Regions from separate parts of the Homo sapiens genome. Here regions 1 and 3 are each linked to region 2. Evidence: fine-mapped expression QTL. A gene starts in region 2. Each other region holds a variant in brackets. All regions are shown on one strand. Distances are from middle to middle.

Region 1 (5,220 bases), 80 kb after region 2:
ACTTGTATTCCCTTATAGCCCTCTTCCCCACCTACCTGGTAAATGTGTGTCATTTCCTCTCTGTAGTGTCCTTCTATGCTCTGGCAGAATCTCTGGCTCAGGCACCTGTGCTGTACATGTCTCTTCCACAACACCTCACTGGCCCAGCCTGCAGTCACTGGTGTGCATGTAAGGTACCTACCTCTTACCTGAGCTCCTGGTGAAAGGCTCCGTAGGATGTTGACCTATGTATCCCTCATCCTGGCCTGGCCCAGGTAAGGGCCCCAGTACAGGTTTCTGTCACATTTTTTTTCGTTCAGTCACCAGTCTCAGTTTTAAACAAGTCTGCTGAGCTCCTCGGCAGCCAGGAAAGCTTCATAATCTTGTCTGAGAACGAAGATGAAAGAACTTTGTGCTCAAAGAGGATGACATCTTTGATAGAAAGACACAATATTACTAAGAGGTCATTGTTCTTAAATTTGTTTGTAAGATCACCACGATTTCCAAATAATACTAAAGTTCATTTGAAAAATAAGCATGTGAGAATATCCAGAAAAAATATTTAAAAAGAAGAATAAGGCCAGGTATGGTGGCTCACACCTGTAATCCTAGCACTTTGGGAGGCCAAATTAGGAGAATTGCTTGAGTCCAGGAGTTCAAGATCAGCCTGGGCAATTTAGCAAGACCCCATCTCTACAAAAAATAAAAAATTAGCTGGGTGTGCTGGTGCATGCCTGTAATCCCAGCTACTCAGGAGGCTAAGGCAGGAGGATCCCTTGATCCCTTGATCACACCACTGCATTCCTGCCTAGGCGACATAGTGAGGCCCTGTCTCAAAAAGTATATAAAGAAAAAATAAAAAGATGAATAAAAGGAACTAGACTTACCATAATACTAAAACATATGATAAAGCTATAATAACTAAAACTGGTACTAGAAAATAGACCAACATGTCAATGGAACAGAATAGAAAGTCCAGAAATAGATACTATCTACATGGGCCTTTAGTTTATGATAAAGGGAGACTTTCAAACACACTGGGGGGAAAGGATTATATTAAAATATATATAAATTATATAAAAATGTGGGGGATTATATCCCTCATTCATTTCATCTAGATTAATTTTAGGCACATCAAAGTCTTAAACATCAAAAAAATGAAAATATAAATTTCTAAAAGAAAGCATGTACAAACTTAGAATCTTGGAGTGAGGAAGATTTGTCTAAGTAGGACATGAAACCCAGTAGATATGTGTTTTTTTTAACATTTTAAAATATTAAAATTTAAATTCTGGGTGGGGGTGCGGTGGCTCACATTGTAGTCCCAGCACTTTGGGAGGCTGAGGTGGGTGGATCACTTGAGGTCAGGAATTCAAGACCATCCTGGCCAGCATGGTGAAACTCCATCTCTACTAAAAATACAAGAATTAGCTGGGCATGGTGCTGCACACCTGTAATCCCAGCTACTTGGGAGGCTGAGGCAGGAGAATCACTTGAACCAGGAGGCAGAGGTTGCAGTGAGCTGAGATTGTGCCACTGCACTCCAGCCTGGGCAACAGAGCGAGACTCCGTCTCAATAAATAAACATCCAAGACTTCACCCCGTGGACTTAATGTATGCATGTTTCCTTCTTCCATCCATGCATGCTGGCCCTTCCTTTGTCTCTTTCCTAACTTCTCATCTCTCCTTCTTGTGTTCTCATTTCCCTTTATCTCCATTTCTGGAAGACAAATTGGGATGTGGGCTTTAGCATGCTTCATGAGGACCCTCATATCCTCAGTGCTCACAGATTTTATGTTCTTTCAAATATTCGGACAAATCACGAAAACTGCAAATGAGGTAGGCTGAAAATATGAACCAAGCTGGGTGCTTTCCTTTCCGTGAACTGCTCTCAGACTGGAGGAAGAAGAGAAGGAGAAAGAAGAGTTGGAAGGATGATTTGGTTTTTGTTTGTTTTTAAGCTTTCTTTTCTTTTGACTCCTCATTTAATTATTTGCATTTCATTATTTATTAGATTTCTCCTTGATTATAATTTCAGGGTATGTTTCTGATTAAAACGTTGATAAAATGTTCTGTTAGAGGCGAGGGTCTTCCCAAGAACA[C/T]GCTGTCAGCCTGCAAGGCCTGAAAGATAGAAACTGTCATTTTTTTGTTTACTGAAATAGGCATTTTTAAAGTTTCAGCTTTGAGAATGTCAAATTTTTTGTTTAAAAGTTGAAAACATATTAAAGAAATAGAATGCTAAATCTAAGGTTCTTCTCTAGTTACCAGAGCAGGCTCTTTGGGATGGAATGGCCTTGGCTTGGCCAGTTGGTTGGTAGTAGGGTTTGGCTGAATTCACCAAACGTGCTTTTTTTTTTCTCTCTCTCTCTCGCTCCCTCCCTCCCTCTCTAGCCTTCATATGCTGAGTTTGATATTAGTGGAAATGTGCTGGGTTTGATCTTCAACCAAGGAATGATCTGGTGAGTTATCCATTTCATCTGGTGATCGCCTCATCCAAGGAGTCAAAAAACTGGAATCCCAGACTTTGCAACTTAACTAGTTGGAAGAGGCTAGATAAGTCCTCTTGCCTCTCTGAACTCCCCTCTTTCACATGAAAAATCAAGAGCGGGACTAGATGAGAAGCAGGACAGTTTCTGGCCCACCCATGTGCTACCATAGAAGTAGAGAGAAAGGGAGAGGGGTTGGTGGAGGAGAAAAGGAAAAGGAAGGAAGGCAGGAGAGAAGGAGAAGAGGGAAGAAAAAGGGAAGAAGGAAGAAAGACAAAGGAAAGGGAAAAGGAAGGAGTAAAGAAGAGGAGGAAAAGAGGAGGAAAGGAAAATAAAGAAGGAGGGAGGGAGAAAAGAAGGAAGAGAAGGTGGAAGGTAAATGAACTATGGAACTCCCTCTTCTGAAAAGGGAGTTCAAGGAGGTACATAACTTCAGCCAAAGACTTTCAAGGTGCCAAGGGCTCGCTGCAAGCCACTGTCCAATTCTCTCAATTGAAGGACTTCAAATACTCTTCTGAGCAGCAATGCTGTTTTATGGAAACCGAGGAGAAACAGGCAGGAGACCGTATAATTTGCTAGATGCCTGGGGGCGAGTCAGTGGTAAAATCTTGGCCAGAGCTTAAGCCAGGAATGCTCGGAGTGCCTCCCTCTCCTGAGGACTGCATGGTTCTGGCTTGATGATCGATATTCTGGTTAAATGGGAGGCCCCTTACCTGGGGACTTGCCAGGAAAGCAGCTCGGCCTCATGCCCCTAACCCATCCGTCCCATTTCCTTCTATCACCCTTCCCTCGCCTTCCCTGCTGTCCAGCCAACCAGGTGTTTGGTTTCTGCCATTCCAGGATGGGCTCCTTCTATGCTCCAGGCCTGGTGGGCATTAATGTGCTGCGCCTGCTGACCTCCATGTACTTCCAGTGCTGGGCGGTGATGAGCAGCAACGTACCCCATGAACGCGTGTTCAAAGCCTCCCGATCCAACAACTTCTACATGGGCCTCCTGCTGCTGGTGCTCTTCCTCAGCCTCCTGCCGGTGGCCTACACCATCATGTCCCTCCCACCCTCCTTTGACTGCGGGCCGTTCAGGTGCAGAGTCTCAGTTGCCCGGGAGCACCTCCCCTCCCGAGGCAGTCTGCTCAGAGGGCCTCGGCCCAGAATTCCAGTTCTGGTTTCATGCCAGCCTGTAAAAGGCCATGGAACTTTGGGTGAATCACCGATGCCATTTAAGAGGGTTTTCTGCCAGGATGGAAATGTTAGGTCGTTCTGTGTCTGCGCTGTTCATTTCAGTAGCCACCAGCCACCTGTGGCCGTTGAGTGCTTGAAATGAGGAACTGAGAAAATTAATTTCTCATGTATTTTTCTCATTTATTTATTAATTTTTAACTGATAGTTGTACATATTTGGGGGTACATGTGATATTTGGATACATGTATACAATATATAATGATCAAATCAGGGTAACTGGGATATCCATCACATCAAACATTTATTTTTTATTCTTTTTAGACAGAGTCTCACTCTGTCACCCAGGCTGGAGTGCAGTGGTGCCATCTCAGCTTACTGCAACCTCTGCCTGCCAGGTTCAAGCGATTCTCATGCCTCCACCTCCCAAGTAGCTGGGACTACAGGCATGCACCACAATGCCCAACTAATTTTTGTATTTTTAGTAGAGACGGGGTTTTGCCATGTTGCCCAGGCTGGCCTTGAACTCCTGGCCTCAAACAATCCACTTGCCTCGGCCTCCCAAAGTGTTATGATTACAGGCGTGAGCCACCGTGCCTGGCCTAAACATTTATCTTTTCTTTGTGTTGGGAACTTTGAAATTATACAATGAATTATTGTTAACTGTCATCTCCCTGCTGTGCTATGGAACACTGGGACTTCTTCCCTCTATCTAACTGTATATTTGTACCAGTTAACCAACCGTACTTCATCCCCACTCCTCTCTATCCTTCCCAACCTCTGATCACCTCATTCTACTCTCTACCTCCATGAGATCCACTTTTTTAGCTCCCACATGTGAGTAAGAAAATGCAATATTTGTCTTTCTGTGCCTGGCTTATTTCACTTAACATAATGACTTCCTGTTCCATCCATGTTGCTGCAAATGACAGGATTTCGTTCTTAATTTCAATTAAAATAACCACACATGGCTAATGGCTACCATATTCGACAGCACAGTTCTACCCTTTTAACACATGGATAACTTACTACCTGGGATTACTTTACCATAGGATAAGTAATGGTGGATATTCTGAGGATGAATTACCATACACTTACACGTGCCGTTTAAATGTGAAGCAGCTGCAGTGGACTCTTGACAGACCTCAACTGAGCTCTCTGCTCTCCAGAGCATTGGCCTGGGGGTTCAATACATAAGTCAAGCTAGTTGGGAGACTAGATATTGTATAAAAAGACAAATAATTATGTAAGGAGGTAGATCAAGAGATAATGTGCATCTACTGTTCTCTTTCCAAATGCCTGACCTTCTGAAAACAAAGCCCTCTGCCAACTCCGTAAAGAGAGGTTCTGTGGTTAAAGCAGTTTAGGACGTACTGCCCCTTCTGTCTGCCATTATCTCACTTAGAAATGCTCAATGCACACTCCTTTGTTAAAGGCTCTGAAGAATCATGCAATGAGGTAACACCTGTAAGCTAGTGTCTCCGTCCTTATTGACCACAGAACCCTTTCTGCATGGATCACTCATCCAGGGCTGGAAATAGGGTGAGGCAGGTGAGTGACGCCCTACACTGCACATGAG
Region 2 (5,220 bases):
CAAGGGCTAAACCCAGCCACCAGACAGCAAAAACACATCAGCCCCTGAGGACAAGGGTCTCTGTTTCATTTGCTGATGAATCCCCAGAGCCGAGAACTGACTCTGACCCCAGTGGGTGCTCATTTTTATCTGTGAGGAGAAAAGTGGAGTTATCGACTGTGTGGACAGTCAGGTACAAGGGAATTTGATAGTCCTATCTGGAGGGAATTTCTCTCCGGAGATGAAGGTGTTGTAGAAAGCCTTTCTCCTCTGGCAACAGAGAACAACAAGAGCAGGGTAAAGGCAGGAGGCGGAGCTTGCAGTGAGCCGAGATCGCGCCACTGCACTCCAGCCTGGGCGACAGAGCCAGACGCTGTCTCAAAAAAAAAAAAAAAAAAAAAAAAGAGCAGGGTAAAGGGCTGCTGGGGGTCCTCACTCATCAGGGGAGAGCGCTTGGGGCACCCCCAGCAGAAACCTTACTCACCAGTCCTCTGGGCCACGCTGTCCTGTGGCTGCACAGCTGCCCGTGCTGCTTCTCACATGGACCGGGGTCCTGCACTGGCATGGCCCTGGTGGGGAGAGGGATTTGCGGCTGCAGTCCTGCAGTATGGATGCCAGAGAATGCAACTGAGATCCTCCCACTGCCCTCATGCCCCGGGGACTGGGGCGGCCCTGCAGGAACCAGTTGGGTCGGAGATCAAGGTGTGGGACAAAGAGAAAAGCTTCAAAGCTTGAGATGAACCGTTGCACGTGCATTTTAGAGGTAGCTCCTTTGCCCCTTCCCTCGCCAAGCTTGCATGAGGACAGGCACTCCTACTCCTGACCCCTGAGAAAGTACATGGGCATGATCAGAGGCTAGGTCTGTCCTTGACACCCACAGGAGACTTGCCCTGGGGAAGGCTTTTTATTCTGTTGTGTCATAGAATCCTTTGGCATCCTGGTAAGGTCCGTAGACCCCTTTTTATATTTTTTTTTATTTTTGAGACAGAGTCTCACTCTATCACCCAGGGAGTGCAGTGGTGCAATCTCAGCTCACTGCAACCTCCACCTCCTGGGTCAAGCAATTCTGCCTCAGCCTCCTGAGTAGCTGGGACTACAGACACATCCCACCACGCCCGGCTAATTTTTGCATTTTTAGTAGAGATGGGGTTTCACCATGTTGGCCAGACTGGTCCGGAACTCCCAACCCTAGGTGATCCGTCTGCCTTGGCCTCCCAAAATTCTGGGATTACAGGCGTGAACCACCACGCCCAGCCACAGACCGCTTTTCAGAACATAGACATTAAATCCATAAAATAAAACACTAGGATTACAAAGGAGACCAATGATCCTGAAATAGGCATCAAAATCACTTTAAATATCTTTCATATAATGACAATATATGCTTCCTAATTAAATAACAAGATTTCATGGCAGGTCTCTAACTATCATAATTTTGAAGTTGTGATAACATGTAAGATATTTTGAGACATCCCCAGTGGTTTAATTGGGAAAAAAAATAACTGTGACTTTTGCTGAGACAAAAATCACATCTTTGCTTACATTCATGATTGAGGGAAATGCTAAATCGCAGTTAAGGCTAGGAAAAGTGAAAGTGTAGTATTTTCTCCATCACTATTCACAAACCCACAGAATTCCATCCACAGCTCTGGGGGTTCCAGGGACTCCAGATTAAGAACTCCACACTCTGAGACCTTATGACTGCCTTCCAGAGGGTCCCTCTGACACTTTAGTGATGGTTTTCAAAGCAGCCAAATCTGTGCCTCCCTGAAGCCAGGGAGGAAAAGCTGCTGAGGGAGGGGGCGGGGGCTGAGCGGGAACATTCATCTGTGTGGGCTCAGGACGCCTGCAGCAGGATCCACAGTGCAGGCTCCCAGGGCCTGGCACAGACTGACTGATTCCAACGCCCAGTGCCACTCCTGGGAGTATGCATTTTATTTTTAAAAATTTATTATTATTATTTTTCTTTTTGTGGAGATGGGGTCTCACTACGTTGCACAGGCTGGTCTTGAGCTCTTGGGCTCAAGCAATCCTCCTGCCTCTGCCTTCCTAAGTGCTGAGATTACAGGTGTGAACCACCACATGCCAGAATCTGCATTTTAAACAGAAGCCCAAGTAATAACTTAAACAAACATTCTAGAATTTCCCTGGTGCTTTGTCCCAATCAGGGACTCAAGATAGTGGGAGAGGGCCTGGGATGCTCCTCACACCTCCTCTGGCTAGAGTGCCAGCGGCATCATTGCCAGGAGATAAGCCTGCAGCTCCTGGCCCCTCCAGGGCCCCTCATGTATAACTGATGCCTGAAACATGAGGCCATGCTGCCTCTTTGCAGGGAAACCTGAGAAGAGGAGTGTGTGGCCGGATTGATGGGCCGGGAACTCGTCGCCTTCCTTCACCCGTCTCTCTCCCCCAAACTTCACCCACCTCCACATTCAATCTCAAACCAAGAAGCCCCGCCTGCTGTCAGGTCTAGGAAGGGAGGCCAGCCACCATGAGGGCAGGAAAGCAGCCCAGGCTGAAGGCGTGCATACAGGAGCACGCTGCGTGAGCCTGTGCAGGACCCCAGCAGTGCTGCTGACCATGAGCCACCAGGTAAAGGGCCTGAAAGAGGAAGGTGAGTCCACGTCCTGATCCTGCGGGGCCCGCCCACAGGGTTCCTGGGCAGCAGCAGGGGATGGGGGAAGCACATATGGTGTTCAGAGGCATAGGGAGGAGCTGGGTTTGAGTCCAGGGCCTGTCCCCTGTGCGCTGAGCGACCTCGGCTGGTTATTCAACCTCTCTGATCCTCACGCATGAGATGGGGGTAGTCATCACCTCCTTGCAGGGCTACTGGAAGGATTCAAGACAACCTGTGCACAGCACCTGTGTTCAGGCCAGCACTGGAGACTGTCACGGCCGATGCATGCTCCTCAGAGCCTGCTGGGGCGTCTCAGCCACCTATTGTCTCGGTTAGGGTTGCCTGTTCCGAGCAAGCCCCTCAGCAGATTTCTATCTGTCTCTGTCTCTGTGCAGGGCAGGGGGTGGGGGATGTTCTGACCTCATGACTGACAGTATCAGACAAATGTGACAGGCAGGGGACTCTATAATTTGCTGAGTAAAATCATTGGAGCTGGGTCCCAGTTTGAGGCAGCCACAAATCAGCTGAGGGGTCCCACAGTGACCGGGGGTCTGCAGGGAGGGGGACTCACCAGAGGCCAGCCATTTGTCAGCAATCCTGTCTCTTACAGCACGAGGCGGAGTGAAAGGGCGGGTGAAGAGCGGCTCTCCACACACAGGTGAGATGGGGTGGTGGGGTCTCTGGGGAGCCTGCAGTGCCTGGGTGCCCTCTGCTTAGCCCAACAGTCCAGCCACCCATCCAACATTCTCCTTCATCTCCTTCCCTCTCATTCAACACCCTGCATGGAGCCTTCCTGGGAGGCAAGGTGTTTAACATGGGAGGGGGCAGAGTACCACTCAGAGAAGGTGCTGCTCAGCCCTCGGTGTCAGGGGAGACTCCCAGGGTTAGTGACACTCTGAGCTGAGCCTTGGGAAGCAGTGAACATTCACCAGACAGAGGGCAGGGAAGCTCGGTGCAGGCTTCTGGCGGGTGGTGTGGCCAGATTCACATCCAGGCCCCCGGACTCTAGGAGGAACACTCTTAACCTCCAAAAAGTAGTAGGCATAATGGGTGCTCCATCACCTTCCCACTGGGAATGTGACCACAGCTCTCCCGTGAGCCGGTGAGGGAGCCAACTTGCTCCAGGAGAAGTGGGAGAGCCCAAGGAAGCCATAGGCGGGAGAGAAAACCCTTGGTTGAGACTGAGGGTTCAGGGGAGAGGGGCAGAAGCCACACTCACAGGCTGGGCATCTTCATGTCACAAAATATTATGGATGCGATGCTGTTTTCTCCCCCTTCACGTCCCAGGCAGGGCTGGGTCCTGCGCCCCACACTAGTAGGCAAGAAACCAGAATCTTGGGGAGTGATGGGGTTCTGGGGGGTTGGAAGAGATCTCCTTCCTCCCCCATTCTGGGAGGGAGGGCCCTTTCCACTCCCTCCTGTGGGAGGGCCCTGTCCTGGCCCCACTCTGGCCAGTAGGGAGCTGGCCCCAGGAGCCACTTCATCTGCCCTTTCCGCTCCTGTGACCCGCTGCTGTCTGGTTGTCGGGAGCCTGAGCTTCAGTGAGGCCGCTGTGTTACAAGGGGAGAGACCCAGGAGCAGGAGGCAAGGAAGAGCTGGGCAGAGGCTGGCAGGGGGTGCAGCCATGGCATCTCAACAGCCCTTCCTGGCCCCTATCCCGGAACTTGCCTCAGCCACTGTCCCTTCTTCCTACCCCACCTGCCTGCCTCATCCACTCTTTATCTCAATCCAAAGATGAAGGAGCAAATGTGAGAAAGTTCTATGCCCCAGGGTGGCCAGACGAGAAACCTTCCTCCCGGGGGTCGGGCCACGGTGCTCCCGTAGTGACCACTGCCTGTAGGATGCTCAGGCTGGTTCTCCACACCCCACTCCCCTCGTAGTCATCCAGATGCCGTCCCTTCCGCACCCAGCCTGGCCTCCCTCTGCCTCTGCTGCAGGGCTGTGCTGTGCGGGACTCCCCTGTGAGCAGTAGTCCTTAGTAGGACTGAAATGGAAGACCATTTTGCCTACAACACAAACCCTTTCCTACTGAAATATTCCACGTTGCCGCTGCCGTTTTCCCTTTCCCATAGAACACAGGAAATTGGTCAGAATTTTCACTTCACAGATCTAAGTGGTGAAGGGGTGCAGTAAAGTTAAACATTGGGAATATATTGAATTAACTGAAACCCAGCCCCATGAAGGTTTCCATTTTAAATCTCCTCTGGAGTCACCTGCGACGGGACCTGATATTCTCATCCTTCCCTTTATACTCTACCAGGAGGGAATAAAAGTTTAAGAATACAATGTTCTTTTCTCAGAATAGCTACAGTTTGTTACTGTGTTCCTTGAAAAGAAGGATGAGAACTCTCCCTCCTCCTGTATCATTTGGTAAGTGCACTGAACTGTTGAGATCACGGGACTGGAGGGCTGCCGCAGCCTCTCCTCGGCCTGTGTTTTGCACTGTGAATTCTCTGACCGAGTCAGGTGCTACATAGGAGGAGGCCTGTTACATTTAGGAGAGCGTGTGCTGGGCTTGGAGGCCTTCCTAGCAAGACAGCTGCCTTTCCAGTTCCTAAATTATGCATTATGTGGAGTCTGTTGAAAACTGATTATGAAAGAGAAAAAAACAGCTTATTTTCTGT
Region 3 (5,220 bases), 120 kb after region 2:
TGGAACTTGGCATGATGGTTCTGTTGCGACCAGCATGGTGGGTGTTTTTTAGGTTTTTTTTTTTAATGGGCTGAGGTAATTTCTCATGACATGTTTTCCTTCTAATTTGGGACAGCCTTTGGGGTGGATTTCTAAAGTTATACCCACACAATTAAACTATCCCAGAAACACTGGGCAATGTTAACGACACGCGTTCCCCTGCCTTGGCTACTTAATTGCTGAAGATGTAATGAGCACTGTTCTCACAGCCTGTTCCCCTGTCCTTCCCTTTAGGAGATGAGTGAAAAACCCAAAAAGAAGAAAAAGCAAAAGCCCCAGGAGGTTCCTCAGGAGAATGGAATGGAAGACCCATCTATCTCTTTCTCCAAACCCAAGAAAAAGAAATCTTTTTCCAAGGAGGAGTTGATGAGTAGCGATCTTGAAGAGACCGCTGGCAGCACCAGTATTCCCAAGAGGAAGAAGTCTACACCCAAGGAGGAAACAGTTAATGACCCTGAGGAGGCAGGCCACAGAAGTGGCTCCAAGAAAAAGAGGAAATTCTCCAAAGAGGAGCCGGTCAGCAGTGGGCCTGAAGAGGCGGTTGGCAAGAGCAGCTCCAAGAAGAAGAAAAAGTTCCATAAAGCATCCCAGGAAGATTAGAATGCAAATGGACATTCTCTGGGAGGTGGGGCATACCATAGCCCAAGGTGACATTTCCCACCCTGTGCCGTGTTCCCCAATAAAAACAAATTCACAAGAGTTGGTTCATGTTCTTTATTGAACACCTTACATGGGTATGGACAGGGCCTATGGGTGGGGCAAGGCAGCAATGACAGCCTCAGTGAAGTCATGGCAAGTAGCATAGCCACCCATGTCAGAGGTTCGAACCTGTGGGGGAGAATCATCATCATCCATGTGGCCTGGGCTCCATCCTAACAATCCCCATCACCACCCAACAGTCTGTCCCCTAAGGAAGCCGGCCCAAGGACAACCTAGGCTCTACCCAGCAAGGTGACCATGGTCCACTGCTTAGAGGCACAAGGTCTCTTCCCTGGTACACTGCACTGAAGGGTATGGGGAGTGTGGTCCTTGCAAGGTTGGAAGAAATAAAGGGCTCTAGCTCCCTTTAGTCTGCAGGTGACCGATGACAGACTTGATGAAGTCGGTTGTGGTGCTGTAGCCGCCCATGTCTCGAGTCCGCACCTACAGCCACCACCGGCAACAGCCGTGGGGAGGGAGAAAAGAGAGCCCATGAAGGGAGGTAGGGCAATGTGATTGAGGAAATGGAAGCCAAGAATGCGTGACAGCCAGAAAAAAGGCAATGCACAGGAATGGAAGGAGGAGCCAGGATGGGAAGCACATGGACCTGCCACTCCTCTTAAGCCACTATTAGCTGTGCTGCAGCCAGGGCAGGACAGGAGGCTGAGCAGGCAAAGATGATGGGAAACGCAGATCAGAGGCAGGATGTGGCTACCTTCCTTGGAAGAAATAGAGACAAGACCAGGTGGAAGGAAAGAATCACAGCGAAAAGGAGATGGGGCGTGAAGGTGAAGCTGATGCTTCAGCCTGCCTGTATCCCTTGCTGTTCCACCCCCAAGGAGAGCTGCAAGTTCTGCATTCAGATGGCCCATGAAAAGGGCAGTGGATGGAGCAGGAAAGAGGGAACAGCAGATGGGATCTAAGAGGCAAAAGAGATCAAGAGGATGAAACAGCCAAGAGAAGGGAGATGAAGAACAGCCCTGAGAGGGATGCAGGGATGTCAGGGAGCAGATGTTCTGGGGACCTGGGGGGAAAGGAGACCCCCATTCAGGTTCCCCAGAGGGTAGTGCCGAGGTGCTGACACCAGAACTACTCTAAATCCTGAAGCCAGCACTACTCTTCTCAACTCACCTTGCCAACTTTGATCACCTTCTTCACCGCATCTGCGATCATGCTGGAGTGATACTCAAGACTGTGGATATGGACAGGAAGAAACTGTGACTCCCCCAAGACACCTCCCGCTAATTTCCCCACCTGCTCCTCCTCACGACACCCAACCTCTGCCGACAGCCTCCCATGACCTACTTAAGATGCCGCAGCATGTTGGAAGCCGACAGCAGCATGGCCGTGGGATTGGCTATATTCCTGCCCACTGCCTGGGCAAATGGGTGCCGGGCACCCTGTGGAGAGAGGGGCAGGCTAGACACTGGGAGGAGGCAGGAGGGGTA[T/C]GCAGAGGCTTAGGTTGGAAAAGGACATTATGGGAGGGGGAGCTCAGGCCAGGGTCACTGAAAAGAGGCATGGTGGGCAGCGTGGGGGAAGAACAGGCCAAGATCACTTAGGAAGTGGAGATATTGGGATGGGAGAGGAATGGCGGACTTGAGGTCAGAGGAAGGGCCGAGGGAGAAAGCAGCCTCACCGTCTCAAAGACTGCGTATTCTGCACTATAGCTCTCACCAGGGACCACACCAGCTCCCCCAACCAGGCCAGCAGCCAGATTGTCAATAATGTTCCCATAGAGATTGGGCATCACAAGCACATCAAACTGGTAAGGATTCTGCACCAGCTAGAGGGTGAGATGCAGGCATGAAGTAAATTCCACTCCCCACCCTCCTCCTCCGCCCCATGAGTAGAGATGTGGGGAGGCCTCACCTGCATGCAGCAGTTGTCTATGATCATTGTCTCAAATTTGATTTTGGGGTACAGTTCAGCAACTTCCTCACAGCACTGCAGGAACAACCCATCCCCAAGTTTCCTGTCCATGGGCCAAAGGGGACAGAATCAGCCAAGAAAGTACAGGGGCTACCTTCCCAGGAACCCATCCTACACAAAGCCATGCCCCTCACATGATGTTGGCCTTGTGGACAGCAGTGACCTTGCCCCGCCCCTTCTTGGTGGCATAGTCAAAGGCGAACTTTGCAATCCGCTGAGACTTGGCTCGTGTGACAATCTTCAAACACTCAATCACACCCCTTGCACTCTGGGTAAGAAGAAAGCAGCAGCTAGGTGACACTGGGAAGGGAAACAAGGAGCTCCACCTCTCTCCCATCTTCATCCTTGCCCTCCCCCAGTTTCTGGGGCCTCACCTCATGTTCCAGAGAGCTGTACTCCCCTTCTGTCTGCTCTCGAATGATCACCAGGTCTAGATTGTTGTGCCGAGTCATATACCCAGGAAGTGACTTCACATGGACTACGTTGGCAAATAAGTCCAACTTACGCCTGAGGGTGGGCAGGGCCATCAGCTCTGCTCCTGGTGCCCTGGCACCTCTCAACCATTCACCCCACCCAGACCACCTACCTCAGCCGCATATCATAGGAGGCTAGCTCCCCCTTATACTCCATCGGGGTATGAATCTTTCCTGTGAAAACAAAGTGGGAAAAGGAGTGTCAGCCACAGGCCAAGCCCAAGGGAACTCAGACCAGTGTCTAACCCCCTTAGGAACATCATGTAACCCAGACTCCCATCTCCCATTCCCACATCAGTAAACTTTTAAATTGTCTCTGGGGGCAAGGGACAAAAGAGAATAATGTAGTTAAAGCCAGAAACATTTCATCTATTGCATTTTCTGTGTGTGTGTGTGTGTGTGTGTGTGCGTGTGTGAGAGACACAGGGTCTCACTCTGTCGCCCAGGCTGGAGTGCAGTGGCACGACCTGGGCTCACTGCAACCTCTGCCTCCCAGGTTCAAGCAATTCTCCTGCCTCAGCCTCCCCAGTAGCTGGGATTACAGGCATGTGCCACCACACCTGGCTAATTTTTTGTATTTTTAGTAGAGGCAGTGTCTCACCATGTTGGCCAGGCTGGTCTCAAACTCCTGACCTCAAGTGATCCACCCGCCCCGGCCTTAATGCTTTATTTTTAGTCAACATATTTAATTTATGTTGAAACTTCAAAACGGAGAACAGATTTTTTCTATTTATCAAAAAAGAGCCTGGGTTTAACAACAAGTTGAAAAACAATGCTAGCAGATCTGTGATCTTTTTATCTGTGCCTTCTCCTTATTTGACATTTTTTAACCCAACACCTACTGATGAATATCAATTATATGTCAGGCAATAAGGATAACAACTAAAACCATACAACTCCTGCCCTTGAGAAGCAAACGGTACACTGGGAAAGACAGAAAATATGAAAGACATGATAAGTACCATGGGAAACTTGCATAGCAACACAAAGAGGAAATCCTCTCCAGTAATATCAGGATACAGCACAGAAGAGCTGGCACTTCAGCCATGCCTTGAGCCCCAGAACCTATGTATGTGACCTTATTTGGGAAAAGAGGCTTTGCAGATGTAATTAAGTTAAGGATCTTGAGAAAAAATCGTCCCATCCAGGGCTAAATATTTGAGGAGAAAAATGATACCGAGACAGAGAGGGAAGAAAACCACAGATATTGGAGTGATGCATCTACAAGTCAAAAAACAGCAAGAGCCACCAGAAGAGGCAAGAAAGGTTTCTCCCCTAAACCTTCAGAGGGAGCAGGGCCCTGCCAACACCTTAATTTCAGACTGATGGCCTCCAGCACTGTGAGAGAATACATTTCTGTTAATGATAAGCCACCAGGTTCATGGTAGTGTGTTACGGCAGCTATGGGAAACTAATACAGTGAATGAGTGAGAAGGACTCTAACAGGTAGCACCAAAGAAAGAACGTTCTGGGTGGAGGGAACAATATAAGTCAGGTAGTACATATTTGGAATCTAACACACAATCTAGTGTGATTGAAGCACAGAACAAGAGTTGTGGAACCAAGGCAGAAAATTAAGGGCCAACTTATAAAGTACTGACTTTCCTATGGTAAGGCTGGGCCTGGAAAATCAGGCTGTTCTTTCCAAGAAGAGATATGGAAGATGAACTATAGGGGCAGAACTAGAAGCCAAAAAAATCAAATGAGGAGATTAAAGCGCGGAAGACAAAAGAAAAGGGGCAGCTAGGCACGGTGGCTCACGCCTATAATCGCAGCAGTTTGGGATGCAGAGGTGGGTGGATCACTTGAGGTCAAGAGTTCGAGACCAGCCTGGCCAACATGGTAAAACCCTCTCTCTACTAAAAATACAAAAATTAGCCTGGGCATGGTGGCTCACACTTGTAATCCCAGCACTGTGGGAGGCCAAGGCGGGCAGATCACAAGGTCAGGAGTTCGAGACCAGCCTGACCAACATGGTGAAACCCCATCTCTACTAAAAATACAAAAATTAGCCAGGCATGGTGGCACGCTCCTGTAATACCAGCCAGCTACTCAGGAGGCTGAGGCAGGAGAATCACTT

Which allele goes with the higher level. Alleles are on the strand shown, and positions count from the first base shown. SD is a standard deviation of normalised expression in the study named.
With allele C in place of T in region 1, the expression in neural progenitor cells of the gene that starts at base 2,511 in region 2 is lower (large effect, 1.5 SD a copy in Aygun 2021).
For the expression in fibroblasts of the gene that starts at base 2,511 in region 2, T is the low allele of the variant in region 3 and C is the other (moderate effect, 0.46 SD a copy in GTEx).

What was found. PIP is the estimated chance that this variant, and not a neighbour inherited with it, causes the effect.
Region 1: its variant is the best candidate, but not a certain one, in a credible set for the expression of TMC2 in neural progenitor cells (Aygun 2021, PIP 0.89).
Region 3: its variant is the best candidate, but not a certain one, in a credible set for the expression of TMC2 in fibroblasts (GTEx, PIP 0.53).

Annotation. Positions count from the first base shown.
Region 1 is chr20:2,613,767-2,618,986 of GRCh38, forward strand. TMC2 (transmembrane channel like 2) reads left to right here. Exons shown (of 20, transcript NM_080751.3): 15 at 2,371-2,438; 16 at 3,306-3,545. LOC105372505 (a long non-coding RNA gene) reads right to left here. Exons shown (of 5, transcript XR_007067502.1): 4 at 4,740-4,819; 5 at 280-366. Among named protein-coding and RNA genes, the nearest start is that of NOP56, 36 kb to the right of the region's middle. The variant C/T (reference allele first, on the strand shown) is at 2,082.
Region 2 is chr20:2,534,063-2,539,282 of GRCh38, forward strand. It overlaps TMC2 (transmembrane channel like 2), which reads left to right and starts at 2,511. Exons shown (of 20, transcript NM_080751.3): 1 at 2,511-2,593; 2 at 3,207-3,254. The coding sequence starts at 2,560. LOC105372504 (a long non-coding RNA gene) reads right to left here. Exons shown (of 3, transcript XR_937204.3): 3 at 466-548.
Region 3 is chr20:2,657,656-2,662,875 of GRCh38, forward strand. NOP56 (NOP56 ribonucleoprotein) reads left to right here. Exons shown (of 12, transcript NM_006392.4): 12 at 274-738. The coding sequence ends at 639. It overlaps IDH3B (isocitrate dehydrogenase (NAD(+)) 3 non-catalytic subunit beta), which reads right to left. Exons shown (of 12, transcript NM_006899.5): 5 at 3,254-3,314; 6 at 3,042-3,174; 7 at 2,802-2,935; 8 at 2,608-2,710; 9 at 2,375-2,521; 10 at 2,044-2,138; 11 at 1,870-1,930; 12 at 740-1,182. The coding sequence ends at 1,096. Among named protein-coding and RNA genes, the nearest start is that of SNORD57, 3.3 kb to the left of the region's middle. RefSeq lists a silencer at 695-895 and an enhancer at 4,838-5,220. The variant T/C (reference allele first, on the strand shown) is at 2,187.